4 linked regions of the Homo sapiens genome follow. The protein of the gene in region 1 interacts with the protein of each later gene in a pairwise test. Each region holds a gene or a part of one and is shown on either strand. Other genes may lie near its edges.

Evidence for each region.
Region 2: the proteins of CEP70 (region 1) and ARHGEF3 interact in binary tests that used the Homo sapiens proteins (3 or more experiments, as listed by UniProt).
Region 3: the proteins of CEP70 (region 1) and BRD1 interact in binary tests that used the Homo sapiens proteins (3 or more experiments, as listed by UniProt).
Region 4: the proteins of CEP70 (region 1) and EMP1 interact in binary tests that used the Homo sapiens proteins (3 or more experiments, as listed by UniProt).

Annotation. Positions count from the first base shown.
Region 1 is NC_000003.12:138,583,222-138,588,363, forward strand, and holds part of CEP70 (centrosomal protein of 70 kDa), read right to left. Parts: intron 1-5,142.
Region 2 is NC_000003.12:56,741,810-56,746,951, reverse strand, and holds part of ARHGEF3 (rho guanine nucleotide exchange factor 3), read left to right. Parts: intron 1-1,489; coding exon 1,490-1,747; intron 1,748-5,142. UniProt on the Homo sapiens protein: Acts as a guanine nucleotide exchange factor (GEF) for RhoA and RhoB GTPases.
Region 3 is NC_000022.11:49,771,643-49,776,375, forward strand, and holds the end of BRD1 (bromodomain-containing protein 1), read right to left. Parts: intron 4,518-4,733; coding exon 4,408-4,517; intron 4,104-4,407; coding exon 3,949-4,103; intron 2,775-3,948; coding exon 2,591-2,774; 3' UTR 1,641-2,590; downstream 1-1,640. UniProt on the Homo sapiens protein: Scaffold subunit of various histone acetyltransferase (HAT) complexes, such as the MOZ/MORF and HBO1 complexes, that acts as a regulator of hematopoiesis.
Region 4 is NC_000012.12:13,216,582-13,221,581, reverse strand, and holds the end of EMP1 (epithelial membrane protein 1), read right to left. Parts: 3' UTR 1,641-5,000; downstream 1-1,640.

The DNA of each region.
Region 1 (5,142 bases):
CATTATATAATGATAAACAGGTCAATTCAGCAAGAGTATGTAACAATTGTAAATATTATACACCCAACATTGGAGTACCCTGATATATAAAGCAAATATTATTAGAGCTCGAGAGATAAATCTCAATTCAATAATAGTTGAAGACTTCAACACCACCCTTTCATCAGACAGATCATCCAGACATAAAATCAACAAAGAATCATCTGACTTAATCTGCACTATAGAACAAATGGACCTAACAGATATTTACAGACGTTTCATCCAATGGCTGAAGAATACACATTCTTCTCCTCAGCACATGGATCATTCCCAAGGATGGACCATATGTTAGGCCACAAAACAAGTGTTAAAACATTAAAAACAAACTGGAATAATATAAAGTATCTTCTCTGACCACAATGGAATAAAACTAGAAATCAGTTAACAGGAGGAATTTTGGAAACTATTCAAACATATGAAAATTAATCAATAGGCTCCTGAATCATCAGTGGGTCAATGAAGAGATTAAGAAGGAAACTGAAAAATGTCTTGAAACAAATGATAATGGAAACAGAACATACCAAAACCTATGGGATACAGTGAAAACAGTACTGAGAGAAATTTATAGCTTTAAGTGCCTACATGAAAAGAAAAACTTCAAATAAACAACCTAATGAACTAGAACTAGAAAAGCAGAGCAAACCAAACTGAAAGTAGAAGAAATAATAAAGATTACAGCAGAAATAATGAAATTGAAACAAATAAGACATAAGAACAATAAAACAAAAAGTTGGTTTTTTGAAAAGATGTAGAAAACTGATAAACCCTTAGCCAGACTAATGAAGAAAAAAGAGAAAAGATTCAAAATCAGAGATGAAAAAGGAGACATTACAACCAATACTGCAGAAATACAAAGGATCATTAGAGCCTACTAGGAGCAACTATATACCAATAAACTAGAAAATCTAGAAGAAATGGATAAATTCCTAGACACAAACAACCTACTAAGATTGAACCATAAAGAAATCCAAAACCTGAACAGACCAATAACAACTAACAACATTGAAGCTATAATAAAAAGTCCTCCAGCAAAGAAAAGCCTCGGACTCCATGGCTTCACTGCTGAATTCTACCAAACATTTAAAGAATTAACACCAACCCTACTCAAACTATTCTGAAGAATGGAAGAGGAGGGAATACATCCAAACTCATTCTATGAGGCCAGTATTACCCTGATACCAAAACCAGACAAAGACATATCAAAAAAAAAAAAAAAAAAGAGAGAGAGAGAGAAAAACCTACAGGCCAATATCCCTGATTAATATTGATGCAAAAATCTTCAACAAAATACTAGCAAACCAAATTCAACAACACATTAAAAAGATCATTCATCATCAACAAGTGGGATTTATCCCAGGGATGAAAGGATGATTCAACATATGCAAATCAATCAATGTGATACATCATTATCAACAGACTGAAAGACAAAAACCATATGATCGTTTCAACTGATACTGAAAAAGCACTTGATAAAATTCAACATTCCTTCATGATTTAAAAAAAAAACCCTAAAAAAACTAGGTATAAAAGGAACATACCTCCACATAATAAAAGCCATGTATGACAGACCCACAGGCAGTATCACACTGAATCGGGAAAAACTGAAAGCCTTTCCTCTAAGATCTAGAACAGAACAAGGATAAAAAATTGACAAACCTTTAGCCAGACTATGAAGGAAGAAAGGAAAAAAGATTCAAATAAAATCAGAGATGAAAAAGGACTGGAATTGCTGTAGTTAGGACTAGAATTGCTCTAGCTAGAGATGAAAAAGGACTGGAATTGCTCTAGCTAGCAGTTAGACATGAGAAAGGAAAAAAAGGCCATCAAAATTTGAAATCAAATTATCCTTGTTTGCAGGTGACATGATCTTATATTTGGAAAAACCTGAAGACTCCACCAAAAAGCTATTTGAACTGGTAAACAAATTCAGTAAAGCTGCAAGACACAAAATCAGCTTAGAAAAATCAGTAGCATTTCTATAAACCAACAAGGACAATCTGAAAAAGAAATCAAAACAGTAATCCCATTTACAATAGCCACAAAGAAAATTAAACACCTAGGAATTAACTGAACCAATGAAGTAAAACATCTCTACAATGAAAATTATAAAATACTGATGACAGAAATTGAAGAGGCCACAAAAAAATGAAAAGATATTCCATGTTCATAGATTGAAACAATCAATATTGTTAAAATATCTATATTACTCAAAGCAATCTACAGATTCAATGCAAATGCCTAGCAAAATACCAATGACATTCTTCACAGAAATAGACAAAATAATCCTAAAATTTAAAGCACAAAAGACCCAGAATAGCCAAAGCTATCCTGAGCAAAAAGAATAAAACTGGAGGAATCACATTAACTGACTTCAAATTATATTGCAGAGCTATATTAACTAAAACAGCATACTACTGCCACCAAAACAGACACATAGACCAATGGAACAGAACAGAAAACCCAGAAACAAATCCACATACTGACAGTGAACTCATTATTGACAAAGGTGCCAAGAACATACATTGGGGAAAGAAAAGTCTCTTCAATGAATGGTGCTGGGATATCCATATGCAGAAGAATGGAACTAGACCCCTATCTCTCACCATATACAAAAATCAAATAAAAATGAATCAAGACTTAAATCTAAGCCCTCAAACTATGAAAGTACTACAAAAAAATTGGGGAAACTCTCCAGGACATTGGATTGGGCAAAGATTTCTTGAGTAATATACCACAAGCACAGGCAACCAAAGCAAAAATAGACAGGTGGGGTCACATTGAGTTAAAAAGCTTCTGCACGGCAAAGGAAACAACAAAGTGAAGAGACAACCCACAGAATGGGAGAAAATATTTGTAAACTACCCATCTGACGAGGGTTAATAGCCAGGATGTATAAGGATCTGAAACAACTTTTTTTTTTTGAGTCTCACTCTGTCGCCCAGGCTGGAGTGCAGTGGCACAATCTCGGCTCACTGCAACCTCTGCCTCCCAGGTTCAAGCGATTCTCCTGCCTCAGCCTCCTGAGTAGCTGGGATTATAGGCACATGCCACCACACTGGCCAATTTTTTATATTTTTGGTAGGAAATCAGCATATTAAAGAGATATCTGCACTCTCATGTTTACTGCAGCATTATTCACAAAAGCCAAGATTTGGAAGCAACCCAAGTGTCCACTGACAGACAAATGGATAAAGAAAATCTGGTACATATACATAATGGAGTACTACTCAGCCATAAAAAAAGAATGAGCTCCTGTCATTTGCAACAACATGGATGGAACTGGAAGTCATTATTTTAAGTGAAATAAGCCAGGCACAGAAAGACAAACATCACATGTTCTCATTTATTTGTGGGATCCAAAAATCAAAACAATTGAACTCATGGAGACACAGAGTAGAAGGATGGTTACCAAAGGCTGGGAAGAGTAACAGGTGGGCTGAAAGGAAGAGGGGATGGTCAATGGGTACAAAAAAATAGAAAAAAAGAATAAGATCTAATATTTGCTAGCACAATGGGTTGACTATATTCAATAATAATATAATTGCACACTTTTAAGTAACTAAAAGAGAATAATTGGATTGTTTCTAACACAAAGGATAAATGCTTAAGATGGTGGCTACCTCATTTACCCTGATATGATTATTATATATTATATGGTGTATCAAAATATCCCATGTAACCCATAAACATACACATCTGTGCACCCATGAAATTAAAAAAATTTTAAATTGTAAAAGTTCATATTAAAAAAAATCTCTACAGACAAGAAAAATATACTAGAAAGACGTGCTCACAAAACAGATAGGAACTATAACCTCTATATTAAAACAAACTAAAATACATGTAAAACTCTGTAAGACATAAACAACATAATTAGAAATAAAACTTGGAAATGAGCTGATAGAATCTAGAAATTAGTAACTTTTAAAAACTAATTATTTCTGAAATGAAGATTAAAGAAGGAAAATGAATGAGTAAAGACTACAGACAATGCCTTAAGAGAAATAGAGATTAAAAGGAAAACAATTTTAAAAAATTAAAAAGAAATGAAGAAGAAATATGAAAATGACAAAGATAGGCAAAGAAGCTCAAACATACACATAATAGTGGTAATTGAAAAAGAAAACTAAAACAACAGAACCAATTAAAAAAACTATAATTCAGGAAACTTTCCTGATTTTAAAATTCATACAGAGCTGCAAAAGATCTATAAAAGACAAAACAACTTTGAAAAAGAACAGGCTGGCCATGGTGGCTCACACCTGTAATCCCAGCACTCTGGGAGGCTGAGGCAGGAGGACAGCTTGAGGCCCAGGAATTCAAGACCAGACTGGGCAACATAGCAAGACCCCATCTCTACAAAAAAAAGATTAGCCAGGCATTGTGGCATGAACCTGTAGTCCTCGCTACTTAGGTGGCTGAGGTGGGAAGACAACTTGAACCCAGGAGTTTAATCAGTGAGCTATGATTGTGCCACTGCACTCTAGGCTGGGTGACAAAGCAAGACCCTATCTCTAAATTAATAAATGAATGAATGAAAAAGAAGAACAAAGTTGAAGGACTAATACTATATCATTTCAAGGTTTATAAAGCTATAGTAATCAAGACAATATAGCATTGATATCAAGATAGACAAACAGATTAATGAAACTAAATAGATTCCAGAAACAGACTCATACATATATGGACAACTAATTTTCACCAAAGATACGAAGGTAATTTAGCAGGAAAAACGATAGTTTTTTTTTTTCAATAAATGATGCTAGAACAATGGGATGCCCATGTACAAAAAAAAGAGAAAGAAACAGGACTTTCAGCCATATCTCACACCATATACAAAAAAATTAAAATGAATGACATAAATCTAAAACTTAAAATCACAACATGTCTAGAAAAACACAGAAAAACTGTATGGCCTTGAGTTAGGCAAACATGTCTATGATATGACACCAAAAGCATGATACAATTCAAGAACAAATGGGGCTTCATAAAAATAATGTCTGCTCTTTAAAATATAACATTCTGAGAATGAAAAGAGAAACCACATACTCAGAGAAAATAGTCAGGAATCAGAAAAGGTTCATATCCAGAATATATAGGGAA
Region 2 (5,142 bases), about 82 Mb from region 1:
AAGTAGAGATTTTTAATAACATGTAAGGAAGGTAGACATTTCAAAGGAATGTTAAGCTCAATAGTAAGCTTGTAAAATATTACTTTCCTGGTATCCTTTTTATGGTTTCAGTCACTGAGGAAATAATTTCAATAAGAGGTGTAAAAGCTGCAGCAGAGTATTTAAAGTTTCAGATGCTGCCATACTTTATTTATTTTTATGTATTTATTTATTTTTTTTTTTGAGACAGAGTCTCACTCTGTTGCCAAGGCTGGAGAGCAGTGGCATGATCTCGGCTCACTGCAACCTCTGCCTCCCGGGTTCAAGAGAGTCTCCTGCCTCAGCCTCCTGAGTAGCTGGGATTACAGGTGTGTGCCACCATGCCTGGCTAATTTTTGTATTTTTAGTAGAGATGGGGTTTCACCATGCTGGCCAGGCTGGTCTTAAACTCCTGACCTCGTGATCCGCCTGCCCCGGCTTCCCAATGTGCTGGGATTACAGGCACGAGCCACTGCGCCTGGCCGCCATACTTTATTTTTAAGCAAGGTTCACAAACCATCAAATATTACCTAATCTTGTAATCCATTAAACATGCATTTATTTGTTCATTCAGAACACAGAGTGTCTGCCATATAGTAGGCCCAATGCAAAGTAGTGAGGATACAGAAATGAAAGACACTCCTTTGCCAGTGTCTTGCACTGAATCCCTCTGAAGAGCAGGTGTTACAAGGGACTAGGGCTTCCTAGTACAAGAGAAAGAAACAAAAGCAGTTAGGCCATTGGCTGCATTTGATTGCTTCTGGTAACTTTCTGGAGGCTGATAGCTCTTAGATTAGAACACCAAGGCAGAAAAAGTGGATGAGAAGCCTTTTCCGTTGAATCTCTGACATGGTATTTGCACAGTGTGACTGATGGGATGTGTCAGAGAAATTAGCATTTTGCTAGAATGAAGGCAGTGAAGGTTAAATGTTCCAAAGTCTTTAAGCTTAAATTGTTCGTTACATAGTATTGTACAGGCTCACGCCTGTAATCTCAGCACTTTGGGAGGCCGAGGCGGGCGGATCACGAGGTCAGGAGATGGAGACTATGCTGGCTAACACGTTGAAACCCCATCTCTACTAAAAATACAAAAAATTATCCGGGCATGGTGGCGGGCGCCTGTAGTCCCAGCTACTCAGGAGGCTGAGGCAGGAGAATGGCGTGAACCCGGGAGGTGGAGCTTGCAGTGAGCCGAGATAGTGCCATTGCACACCAGCCTGGGTGACAGAGCGAGACTCCGTCTCAAAAAAAAAAAAATTGCTTTGTGAAAGCAAGCCAGAGCCTAAGAAAATTGTCCACTGCCTGCCATGTTGAAGATTCCACTAGTTTCCTCCAGCCATGCAGATAAAGGAATGTCAGCCAGACCCAGAGACCAGTTAGGTGTTTGTTCAGTCCCAATAAATGATGCCACCGTAGCCTCAGAGCTCAATTATTTTGACATTCCAACCTTCTCTTTCTGTTTCCTTCTTAGCTCCCTTGCCTCAGCTCCTATGATAGCTACTGCAGCAATCAAGTAGCCGCCAAAGCTCTGCTGGACCACAAAAAGCAAGATCACCGAGTCCAGGATTTCCTACAGCGATGTTTAGAATCCCCCTTTAGCCGCAAACTAGATCTCTGGAATTTCCTCGATATTCCAAGAAGCCGCCTGGTAAAATACCCTCTGCTTCTCCGAGAAATCTTGAGGCACACACCAAATGATAATCCAGATCAGCAGCACTTGGAAGAAGCTGTAAGTTTGTCTGTTTCCTTCTCTCTCTTCTTGTTATTTCCACCATAATGGCTGGTGGATTGGGTCAGTGGGTGAATGGAAGAGTCCCTGGGTACTTAGTACTCAGGAATCTTGGGTTCCAGGCCTGGCACTGCCATCAACCATGTTTTGATTTTGCAAGTCACTTCTCATCTTTCTGCCTCAGTTTCCTAAACTGTAAAATGCAGTGCTTACATGAAACACGCTGTAAGGTCCCTTAGTAAAATTCTTAATTTTATACAGGTGACTCTAATCTGGTGTTACAGTTGCTGTCTGTGAGGGACAAGATCTTTGTGTATATTTTAAATTTTGTTTAGTTAGAAAATAGTAAGTTGCCTTTTAGCCTAGCCCCAAAACTCATTTGTGAAGTGGACATCCATTTAAAATCTAGCTCCATTTAGCCCCCGATTACAGTGGCTTGCCTTGTCAAACCTCCTGCTCACTAGTGGGATCCTCACTCAGCAAATGTTTGTTGAGTGTGGGCCAGGCACGATGGCTCATGCCTGTAATCCCAGCACTTTGGGAGGCCGAGGTGGGCAGATCACTTGAAGCCAGGAGTTCAAGACCAGCCTGGCCAAAAAAGCAAAACCCTGTCTCTACTAAAAATACAAAAAAAAAAAATTAGCTGGGCGAGGTGGCATATGCCTATAATCCCAGCTACTCAGGAAGGTGAGGCACAAGAATCGCTTGAGCCTGGGAGGTGGAGGTTGCAGTGAGCTGAGATCACGCCACTGCAACTCCAGCCTGGGCAACAGAGTGAGACTCTTGTCTCAAAAAAAAAAAAAAAAAGGTTTATTGAGTGTGGGCTGGGTAATCTGGGAAATATATATTTTTCCCTAGCAGCAATAGAAGACGAGGAAAAATGGGGTGCACATCATGAGAATATTGTAAACTGTGAGCATTCCACCCAGAGAGCACCGTTCTGGTTGAGGTACTCTGCATGGTAGAGATGGCAGATGGCAGGCCACGGGGAGCGGGTGGCCTGAGCAAAGGTATAAGGAAATGACAGGACAGGTCGTGCCTGGGGAATATCATGGATCAGTTGGCCTGGGGTTAGGGGTCCTCTGAGAAAGCAGCAGGAGAGAAGACAGAGGATGTGGGTTCAGATCTGGTTATAGAGGTTTTTAAATATCAATTTAAGAGATTTTTTCCTTTGTCATGCAATTAATTGAAGTTTTTTTTTTGTTTGTTGGTTGGTTTCTAAGTAGCTGGGATTCAGGATTCAAATCCCAGCTCCATCATTTACAAGCTCTGTAACCTTGGACACATACTCTTGGTAGAACAAGGGACTGAGGAGGAAGAGACTGGTGATAGGGATGCAAGTTGGGAGGATGCTGTCCAGGTGTGAAAACCTGATCAAGGAGGTGGCAGTGGGGATAGAGGCTAGCAGACCATTCAAAGGGCTCATTTTCTGATTTAATCTGGGACAATAATAGAAGGAGGATATGCATAGGTAATTTGAAAATCAGAAACCTTGAACCTGCTGAGCAAACTGCCTATTTCCTCCCAGATAGGGGTTTAATAATAAGTAGTAGTAACAACAATCATGGTAATAATTGCTGGCATTGAGTATCTAGTAAATCAACTTTATGTAATTTGCCTCATAGGTTATGTATCTCATTTAACCGTCACAACAGCCTAGGAGATAGCTGTTCTTATTAGGACCATTTTCCAGATGAGGCTTAGAGGGGTTAAATAGCTTGCCCAGGTCCACAGCCAGCAAGTGATGCAGTTGATGTTCAAACCCTGTCAGTGTAGACTCCAAATCCTGTGCCCTTCAACTTCTTTATGATTCTATACCTTGATGCAGAAAGCCTGCCCACTACTTTGAGTTTCTGTTGCCTTTGTAATTGTGGAGAGCTGTCTGGTCACCAGCCTCACTGGTGCAGAACTGGGCTGGGTGCCTCCAAGTAGGATAGAAAAGAAGAATAAAGGACCCTCTTCTGATTCATGAGGTATTCAATGTATCTGGCAGGCCCAACACAGAGATCAGGCCCCCAGTCCAGCACAGATGGGGGACGCAGTCGCTGGGGTTGAGGCCCATCTCACTTCATCATGTCTGTTTTTATTACTGGGAAGAGTGCGATAGAGTTGCCTCCTTTCCATATTTCATCCCAGCAAGTGTGTGGTCTGCAGGAATAAAAACAACAGGGAGCATGAGCTACTCAAAGTCATGACTTTTTTGAAGCATGGGAGCCTGTTCTGAGTTACTGTAAAGATTTCTTTTTAATATGGAGCATGAAAGAATACTGTTCTGTTTTTTTAAAAAATACCCAGTGAGCTAAAGTTTGAATTTAAAAACAGATAAGAATATGATTGTGTGTAATTCAAAATGATGTGCCAGTAACCAGTTTTCCTAGTGCATAAAGTATGAAGCTGTTTTCAAAAGTTCACTCTGCATCTAGTTATTCAGGCAGATCTGTGCATGAAACATGGTATACCTGCATTTGAAAATGTCTGCAAAGCAAGTCTTCCAAATGCCTACTTACACAGTATACGCACAGGATTTTTTTTTTCCCTTTACAGAATCCTCATAGCATTCATTACCCCACATGAACAGAATTATTTAGCCCTGTACTCTTGGGTGCATTATGAATGTTTGATAAACATAAAACATAAAACAAGCACCAATATAGCTTGACAAATATCCCATGAATAAATTTCCCATCAATGAAAAGGGAAAAATCAGAGAGCGCTAAGTAAATTGCTTCCGTTCCAAGAGAGTTGATTGCATTCATACCTATGATTAGATCTAAAAAGAGGTCTTGCCTTTAATGCAGTGCCTAAATTACCACATCTTTATTAGAATTTCATAATAATGCTTTGAGGGTTGATAAAAATTTTTCTCAAAAGAGAACTTCTTAAAATAGGAGTTTGGATATTCAGATATTCCAGAGAACTTGGTTGTTTAGTGTTTTAAATTCTAAGAATTTTTCGGCCAGAAAATGATCCTGCAGAGCATCCCTTCCCCCCACCTCACCACTATTTCTCAACTCCTAAAAAAAAAAAAAATCACTGAAATCAGTGGGAAAAACAGTCCTGCTTTTGATGCAACAGCCGTGAAGACTGCTATTCTTGGTTCATGGCAGGAGCCAGTGAGTATCATGGCACAAGGGACCAGACAGTCAGGGCTTTCAGAGTCCACTTTGAGGATGATGAGTCCAGCACATGTGAGCTTAATCTCTGTACTGTTACCAGGTATCTCTCATCATCTCCCTTTACCAGTCCCTTCCTTCAGTTTGAACCCAGTGAGAGATGCAACAATAAATTTAATTTAAATGGGCAACTACTGTGACTGTTGACTGGCTATTGGCAGCCTACTGTATGTAACTTTATGCCTCCCTGAAATTCTGCAAAATAAATCTCTCTCAAGAACC
Region 3 (4,733 bases), on another chromosome or scaffold:
GCCCCGGGGCAGCATTGGAACAGGGCGCGGACGCCAGTCCTCCGAGCATGGAGTAACTGCAGCTTTTGAGAAAAGAAAGCGGACCCCACCCCATCGAGAACGCGGCGCCTTGTTTAGGGACGTTCCTGGGCCGTCACGGAGTGTCGCCGGCTCCTCGGCCCCTCCCTCCTCCAAGCCCCCACCCCCGACAGCGGCCTCCCTGGGGACCTCCCCTCGGGCTGCGCTTTCAGCCCAAACACAGGGAGGTCTTCCAGGAGCCTGCCCAGTCCCCACAGCAGCCCAGAGACCCCCACTCCCACCTGTACCTGCCAAGCCTTCAGAGAGGGCGGCCTGGACATGCCCCGCACGGGAGGAGCCCCGCCTCAGCACCCCTGCAAGTGGCAGCAACCCAGAACACCCGTGAGAGGCCTCTGAGCAGCCCAGGAAGTGGCTGGAAGACGCATAGGCAGCTCACTCCTCTGTAAGAGCAAGGACCGGAGAACACATGCTGACCCCTGCTTTTGCAGAGGGGCGATGCTTCAGGACAGGCGCGCTCAGCAGGTGTCCATCTTATTTCACACCTTTGTGTTTATATCATCTTATTTTGCATTTTATGTCTAATTAACAATATGCAGCTGGCCAGGCGCAGTGGCTCAAGCCTCTAATCCCAGCACTTTGGGAGGCCGAGGCAGGTGTATCACTTGAGGGCAGGAGTTCGGGACCGGCCTGGGCAACATAGCAAAACCCCATTGCTAATAAAAATACAAAAATTAGCCAGCCATGGTGGCGGGCACCTGCAGTCCCAGCTACTCCGGAAGCTGAAGCAGGAGAATCACTTGAACCCAGGAGGCGGAGGTGGCAGTGAGCTATCAAGCCATTACACTCCAGCCTGGGCAACAGAGAAAGACTGTCTCAAAAAAAAATTAATACGCAGCAGAATATTATGTGGTCAGCCCAAGCAGTCCCCCCCACTCAGCCCTCTGTCCCTACAGCTCCAGGCACTCCCCCAGCCCCTCCCCTGGACAAGAGGTAATGCCCAGAGGGTGAAAATCCACCAAGGTTAAGCCAGAAACAAAAAGCTCAAAGCTTCGGCATCTCCCTCCGCTCAGACCCTTAGAGCAGATTCCTCTCATCGACAGCACGATCAGGCTGTGGGTGGCAGAGAAGGGGTGCAAACTGCACCCGCCATTAGCTGGGCTTCTCGGTGGTAGCCCTGAGTGCTCCACGGCCTGTCCCCACCTGGCTCCTGCACCCGCTTCCTTTCTGCGTGGGCTTCCTTTCTGCGTGGGCGGTGAGTGATCCTGGGGGCCACCAGCTGCTCGTGGTGGGGAGGGGCCTGCCGGGCGGGGCTGGCTGTGGGAAGGAGAGCCACGACAGATAGGAAGCACCTGCCAGATGCAGGACAGCAACTATCTAAGGAAGACTTGATTTCCAAGTTTCTATGGAGATGTTACAAACGGTGTAGGCTTAAAAAAAGCATTTAAAACTTTTATGTAACTGAAGTTTTAAAATAAAAATATGATCAGGTGAAATAACAAATAATGCCATCCCATGACAGTTTTCAAGATAAAGGCGTGTCCCCGCCCCCTGCAGCCAGCACCCCACCCGTCCTTGGGGCTCACCTAGCCGTCTAGGGCTGTAGGAATAAAATGGCCACACCGTCCAAATCTTGACTTTATTTTTAATATAAAAAATGCAAATTTGGAAACCCACCCTACTTTCCCCAACATAATGCTTTACCTCTTAAAAATAAAAATAAAGTACTAATTCTATATACATCACAGGTACCATACAAAAATGTATCCAAAGTTTCTATTGCTACCAAAGTGTTCTAAATTAAAACAAGTTACAGAAAGCCCCTCATTGTAAACAAAAGATTACAAGTTATAAAATCAAAGTACACACAGGCCAGAGTCATTTATACAATGCAATGCATTCTGCTCCCAAGCCAAGTTGAATTTTTATGTGCCTGTATAAAAATGCATATCAATATACCTTTGCAAATGTATTTTTCATTATAAAGCAAATGAATACACTTTCTACAATAAATAATCCGCTGGGAGGCACACCTGCGGGGTTTGAGGTGGGCGGGACGACGGGAGCGGGGACACACCCACCGGCGGTCACGGGCAGCGGAGTGTTTTTGGTGATCTGCAAGTGATGTACACAGCATAACTTTATTCTCCCCTCTTTCCACAAAGTACCATTCAAAATAATGTCATTTTCTTTCTTAAAATACACATTTGTCATTGTAAATTTACATCCCGTCTTATTAAATAAGTGGTACTCTGTGTAAAGAGCATGATTTACAAAATTATTAAACATTCAAAAGTCTTTAAGAAAAAGCTACATATCAAAGAAAGTGACGCCAGCAGCACGGCCTGGGGACGTGCGACAGACGCACTGGGCTGCCCGGACGTGCCCACCCCACTCACAGCGCCCAGACGGAGATGGGTTCCTAGAAAACTTGGAAATAAAACCTCCCCCCTCCCCGGGGAAAAAGAATTAAAGAGCTATAACTAAAAATCAGAATAAGTTAAGTTTTGAACAATATACAAACATGTACAGCTTATCAACACTATGGACAAGACCCGCGCTGGCGGCCGGGCCGTCAGTCAATGTCACTGAGGTCGCTGGTCGGCTCCCCGTGGACGCGGCTCAGGTGGTTCATGGCGCGGTCAAAAGCGATCCGCACGGCCTTCCGGATGCTGGAATTCCTCCCTTCCATCATCTTTAACTTGTCTATAGTTTCGTCAATACCAAGGGGAACCATTTTGGACTTAGGAAGCCACTGCCTTTTTAAAAGGAAAAACAAGCGGAAAATCATTGCTTGCACATGGTATTTCAGCAGGCTCCATGTAATCATCTAACAAATTCACTGCCCTCCGATAGAAAGGGGCCCTGCTCAGCACCACCAAGACAGCTGGGCCCCGTGCAGGGACAGGCCCGAGGCCAGGAGTGCACCCCTCCCTTCCCCTCCCCGACTTGGGGATACGGGGAGCTAAGTAAGGCATAAAAACCATCACCTCCTCCTCCACCTCCAAAACGTTTCCCAGTGCCTGCTTAGTGACAAGACATGCACACACCAAGCCCAGAGTCAGGGTGGGCCCTGGAGCAGAGGCCGGTGGTTGGGGAGACCCCATCAAAGGGGCCCTCGGATGGACAAGGTGTGGGCCTCGCTCAAGGCCTGACAAGAAGCAGTGGCCACGTGGCCAAAGAGGCAGAGGTCGAGGCAAGGAAGAGAAAGACGGTAGGGATGCCTGTGCTGCCAGTCCTGCTCCAGGCACACCATAGGCAGGTGGCCCCGAGCCCCTGCGCCAGGTCCCAAGTGCAGCCAGCTCCACGGGGAACCAGGAAGCACCTGCCCGGGCCACGTGCGCAGGGCACAGCCGGGGCCACAGCTCCTCCCAGAGGCATGTGCTGCCAGCGTGTCCTGCACAGAGGGATCTTGGGGTCTAAACCCTGGCACATGAGGGTCCCAGACGCTCTGGGGAAAAGCAGCTCAGGGCACAGGGGGAGCCTCCTGTGATGGGGTGGATGTCTGAGCAGAGCTGGATGATGCTGGGACAGAAGGCTCTAAGAACAGGGCCAGAGGCCAGGCCCGGGCAGGGGCCATGTCCTGCAGTACAGGGGTCCGGGAGCACAGCAGAGGGACCCCCAACACTGGAGCGGACACATGGGTAAGGAGTAGGGAAGAGACAGTCCAGACCAATGGGGCTCAGGCGAGAGGGAGAGGAAGCCATCGGGCAGAGACAGACCCGGTGCTCAGTGCCCGTCCCACAGTCCCGGCGAGGGGGCTGGGCAGTGCCCTTCTCCACCAGGCAAACAGCGGAGCACTCACCTCCGACTTTAGCTGTGCCAGGGCCCAGCAGACAAAGACGCTGCTCACCACAGGGACACTCAGGTCACCGAGCCCACGGCCCCCAACCACCCCAGCCGGTCCCCGGAGTCTAAGGCCTCTCAACTCACCAACTTCTCTTATTATCAAAAAAGAGAACGAGGAACAGCTTCTCATCAGACTTGGTCTGCATGTGCTCCCCAATCTTCAGCACGTCCAGGGGTGGGGCCGGGATGGTGACGCCGTTGTGGTGGCCAGGCACACGGGGCATCTTGGGGTCGATGATCTGCACGAGAAGGACCCGCTGAGGTCATTGTGAGGCTCACACCCATAAACAACCCCACCTGTCACTGGCACCCCCCCCCGCCTCCCCACCCCAGCTGTGTGAGCCTCCTCAGACCACCCCCACGCCCCCCTCGCCGAACCACCCCTGCCCCTTCCAGCTGTGTGAACCTCCTCTGACCAACCCCGCCCCCCCGCCAGCTGTGGAACCTCCTTGGACCACCGCCGTGAGCCTCCTCGGACCACCCCCGCCCCGCAGCTGTGTGAGCCTCCTCTGGACCCGCAGGCGCCACGAGAGCCGTACTCACCAGTGCCGGGTAGGAGGGGTAGCCGCTGCACTTGGCCCACACCACCTTCAGAGGCTCCAGCACCGAGGCGGCGGCATCAGTGGAGATCCACATGCTGCTCTGGCCGACTTCTGCGGAGAGGGGCGTCAGCAGGACACAGGCGTCAGCAGGACACGGGGCACGCCCCGCCCCCCCACAAAAGGTGCAGCAACAGGGTGGGTCCCCCGAGCACAGCCCAGCTCCCAGGCCTTTCTCAGCCACCCCGGCAGCACCACTGCCTCCCCTGTGGGGTCCAGGCCCTTGCATCCCCACTGTCCCTGCAGCCCACCTGGGGCCACCAGCCTCCC
Region 4 (5,000 bases), on another chromosome or scaffold:
ACGTGTAATCCCAGCACTTTGGGAGGGCCGAGGTGGGTGGATCACTTGAGGTCAGGAGTTGGAGACCAGCCTGGCCAACATCTCTACTAAAAATACAAAATATAAAATTGAGCCAGGTGTGGTAGCACACGCTTATAATCCCAACTACTTGGGGGGCTGAGGTAAGAGAATTGCTTGAACCCAGGAGGAGGAGGTTTCAGTGAGCAGAGATGGCGCCACTGTCCTCCAGCATGGGTGACAGAGCAAGACTCCATCTGGAAAATAAAAAAGAGCATGGAGTTCAAAACTGGTGGTAGTGGGTGTTAGCTCCAGAAATTAGGAGCCACGCACGTTCCTCTGAATTAGGAAGAGTGGTTCTGGGGAATAAGGACGTCCAGGGTAAGGTCAAGAGAATGACCGGCTGAAATGAACCTAAGCTGAGCAATGAATAATTGTCTGCATTTATCTTTTATCTGTCCTTCCAGGAGCTCTGACAAGTACTAAATACAATGAGACGTAAAGAATTTAAATTATTCTGGGGAAAGAAATTAGTAGTCAGTTCTGGTATGCCATGTTGAAGTAAATTTCATAAGTGAGTATATGGAAAGAAATCTGGAGTTCAATATCACTGCCAGAATATTGCCTTGCTTTTTTAAAACAAGGTGACTAAATGTCAGACTAATTAGTGTAATCCATTTCACCCATAAATCTAGCACTATAATTCTCAAACTTGATTTTGCAACCCTAGTAACCTCAAGAGCTACTGCAAAACTATATCCAAATACTCAAAACAGGTTTACTTTTGATTCACCTTAAAAATTATAAGGACACATGTGCTCAATGTCAGCTTTTTATAAGACAGAGGAGAAGTGGTGAAATCAAATTAAAAATAGTACGATTTCATAATGCCCAAAAGCCTGTAAATGTCTATACTAAGGAGTTGGAATCATTCAAAATTCCCAGATAAACTGAATTTAAGCATTGATACATGATATGGTTTGGCTGTTCCCCCACCCAAATCTCATCTTGAATTGTAATCCCCCAAATCCCCATGTGTTGAGGGAGGGACCCCGTGGAAGGTGATTGGATCATGAGGGTGGTTCCCTCATGCTGTTCTTGGGATAGTGGGTTCTATAAAATTTATGGTTTTATAATGCAGTTTTCCCTTCTCTTGCATGCTCTCTCTCCCCTGTCACCATGTAAGACGTACCTCTTCCCCTTTTGCCATGATTATAAGTTTCCTGAAGCCTCCCCAGCCATGCAGAACTGTGAGTCAATTAAACCTCTTTTCTTTATAAATTACCCAGTCTCGGGTATGTCTTTATAGCAGTGTGAAGACGGACTAATACAATATGCTAATGCAAGTGGGAAAACTAAGATTGATTTTGGAATGAAACATGCAGTCTCAACTTAAGAACACCCAATTTACAAAACTATATATATCCAGACAGAGTCATACTGAATGCCATGTTCTCCCACATCAATGTCAAATGCTTAGCATGGCCAGCAAAAAGCTGTTCCTTTGCTGTAATGCAACCGTGTCTTCTGAATATGGATCCATATTCACTTTCCATCTTATCCTCCATCAGACACACTCTTCTTTTCCTAAAGCATTTGCAGGGCAACAGAGGGTTCCAGGTTTCAGAATTTAAACAGTCGTATCTCATTGAAAATAAGTTTAATGATTATTAAGTTTCCAAGCTAGATTACAGAAGTCTTTTTAGCCCATATCATAAATAAAATAGTTCTGAATTTTTCGTATGGAAAAATATACTCTGAGTTCCAAGCAAACAACTTAAGAAAATTTTTAGAACTAACACATTCCTATATTGGGAAGAGCTCAAAAGTCTGTTCTTCCTCCCCATCCACTGTTGTTTAATTAATCTCTTAATATCATAAAGTCCCTCATGTGCCAAGTGTAGACAGTCATTTTTGAATCAGGGCTCACTTTGTTAGCTTTTTTGTCAATTAAACCTCTTTTCTATATAAATTACCGAGTCTCAAGTATGTCTTCATAGCAGTGTGAAAACAGACTAATACAGGAATTTGGTACCAGGAGTGGGGCATTGCTATAAAGATACTTGAAAGTGTGGAAGCACCTTTGGAACTGGGTAACGGGTAGAGGTTGGAAGAGTTTGGAGGGCTCAGAAGAAGACAGGAAGATGAAGGAAAGTTTGGAGCTTCCTGGAGACTTGTTGAATGGTTTTAACCAAAATGCTGACAGTGATGTGGACGATTAAGTCCACACTGAGGTGGTCTCAGAAGGAGATGAGGAACTTATTGGGAACTGGAGTTGCCAATAGATCAGCAGTTAACCAGAAGCTTGAGTTGAGTATGGACCTGACATATGGATAGACATATTGACATCTTATGCTAGTGTTCTGGCCCTCCCTGCCCCGACAGTGATAGAAGCATCCATCAACGCCCATCCTGACATCAGCATAAAGCACAGGTTGGAGAGATTGTAGATAAAGGCAGAGAGGCTATTATAATGCTTCTCACCTCCAGTTCCCCAGATGGAAGACAAGGAGGCCCTGGAACAAAGGAATGGCATTTGGGACAAAGTGATGTTGGCAAGTAAGAAATGCAGCAGTGGTCCAACCCACAGGAGATGCCAGACAATTGCTCATGGCATGAGATAGGGTCATGAGGAAAAGCTGAAGAACTGAAAATCTTTCTTCTTCCCTCCCTAGGCATTCATGCTCCCACCTCATCTACATCCCACAGATCCTCCATTTTCTCTAGGTATGAGATTTATTTCCAAGCTAGACTGAAAGCTGGAAGAAGATGGGACACATGTCTGCTTCATTTTCTATTTCCCCAGCATGTAGGTGCAGCACCCAGCCCCTAGTTGTTTATCAATTATAGGTCTTGATGGTCATGTCCCCAGCCTCCCGCCTCAGGAGTAGGCTTCACATGTCTCCCTTTCAGAAACAAAGCCACGTAAGACTCCAAAACCCCGCCTTCCCTTGGGCTCCACACAATCAGCATACATCTTTCCTTATCTGTTTTGTGCTCTGAAAATCGTGTCTACCTCCAAATGATACATCTTTAAAGTGAGTCACCCCTCCTCACAATCTACTCCAAAATTTCCAACAAGTTTTCTTCTTTTCATTCTTCCTCCCACCAGCCTATCCTATTCCCTTCTCTCCCCCCACAAAATCTAGCTCTTCTTTAAATACATTTAAACATTTTCGCTAGGACATTTCATCTATACAGGATATGCTATATTCTAACTATTTCTTAGTAAACATTGAAGGGAGTTTCTTCCTTTATTCAAGTATGGAACCCTGCTCAATATCCTTTTGGTCTTCATATGCCTTCTTTCAAGGCCTTTGTGAAATTTTTTTCCATGCCTGAAAGCCGGTGGGGTTTTACACAGGGACTGCGATGGCTAAATCCAAGGCAGAGTGGGATCTTTATCTATTAACCATTTGATAACTCAAGTTTATCCCTTGATGAATGAATAAGTTATCATTTGCCTTTGGGTCCCATTCTTGAGTGGTCATGGAGAGTTCTGTAGCTCACCCTCTTTATACTCATAATTTGCACAAATTTCACCTAAGAGTATTTACTTAACCACTTTAATTCAATTTGTCTCTACCTAAGACATTTAATTCAACAAATATTTTTTAAGCTTCTCTATAAAAGGGACTCTGGCAACTTTCAGACCCGCACTGTAGCACCAGCTCTCTGCTGGCCCACCCCTTGCAGACTTTGGGCTTGCCTGCCTTCAAAATCATGTGAGTCAATTCCTTAAAATAAATATATTTTTATTTATTTATATATATGTTTGCACACACACGCGAATCTTATTTTTTCTGTTTCTCTGGAGAATTCTGACTAATGCACCCCCATTCACCATCCAGGCTTTTGAGGAGAAAGATACCAATCTTAGCAGCAGAGGACACTCTGGATAGAGCTAGGAGTTTGTTGCAGAGTCTGACAAAAGTTCCCTCTGCAGAAGGGATGGAAGGATAGCCTTGGGGGTTGATTTAGGACTGGGTGTATGACATGGGGGAAAAGAAATCCCTGGGGGAGCTAAATGAGGGGAGGTGGACCCCTTATGATAGTTTATCAGAGCAATCTAAGAAATCATGTAGGCCTCTAAGAAAGCATCAAGAATCAATGCAATTTGATTAATTGACTTAAAATATGTTGAACTTTTCAGCCTCCATTGTGTATTTTTGGTGCAATACTCTGTGCAACTATTTCATCCAAGACCAGAAGGGGCTGGAAGATTGCCTGCTTCACATTAAAACCCTCCTTATTGTATTGGTGCTGACACGACACAAGGATATGCAGTCTTTATCCAGTCCTTATTGCTCACAGAAAGATACCAGTCCTTACTGCTCACAGAAAGTAGTGAAGCCTCCCTTCACTCACAGAGCCCACACAGGTATGCCCTGGTTTATGTAATGAATGGGCTGCTACAAATAGGTGTGATGCATGCCTTTGTGAATCACTTTATATTTTGAAGACACATTAGAGGAGCTGGCTATTTCAAAGAAATTTCACAAGTGCCTCATTTCTTAATGTCACAAGCATTTCTGATTTATAATCATAACCCCTTTCTAATGTATTAGCTTATGAAGTTCCATTTTTTGCCTAAGAGGTTTAATCAAAGCAAGATAAAACTATGCTTAATAATATTCAGTTACCTGAAAGAGCTATTGCAGAAATGCCTAATATATTACCAGAAAGTAGCTTAATGTCTCAAATAAATGTCAAGTTGTCCAAATCAAACTGATAGGCAGCTTAATGAGGGATAAATGTCATAATTATCCATATTTCTCCACATTTTTTTTAGAAAAAAACATTCACACAATGAAGGGAATCAGAATCTGTTTTTATATCCCTAGAGTTATAAACATTTGTATCAAAATATTTACAATTATAGTATATGAAATAATCTATTAACGAAGAAGCCCAATACAGTACTAGAACAATCCACCAGAGTAATGCAAATTACATGAGACATAAATGTCACAGAAAAAAAGTAAAAGATAAGGGAATACATG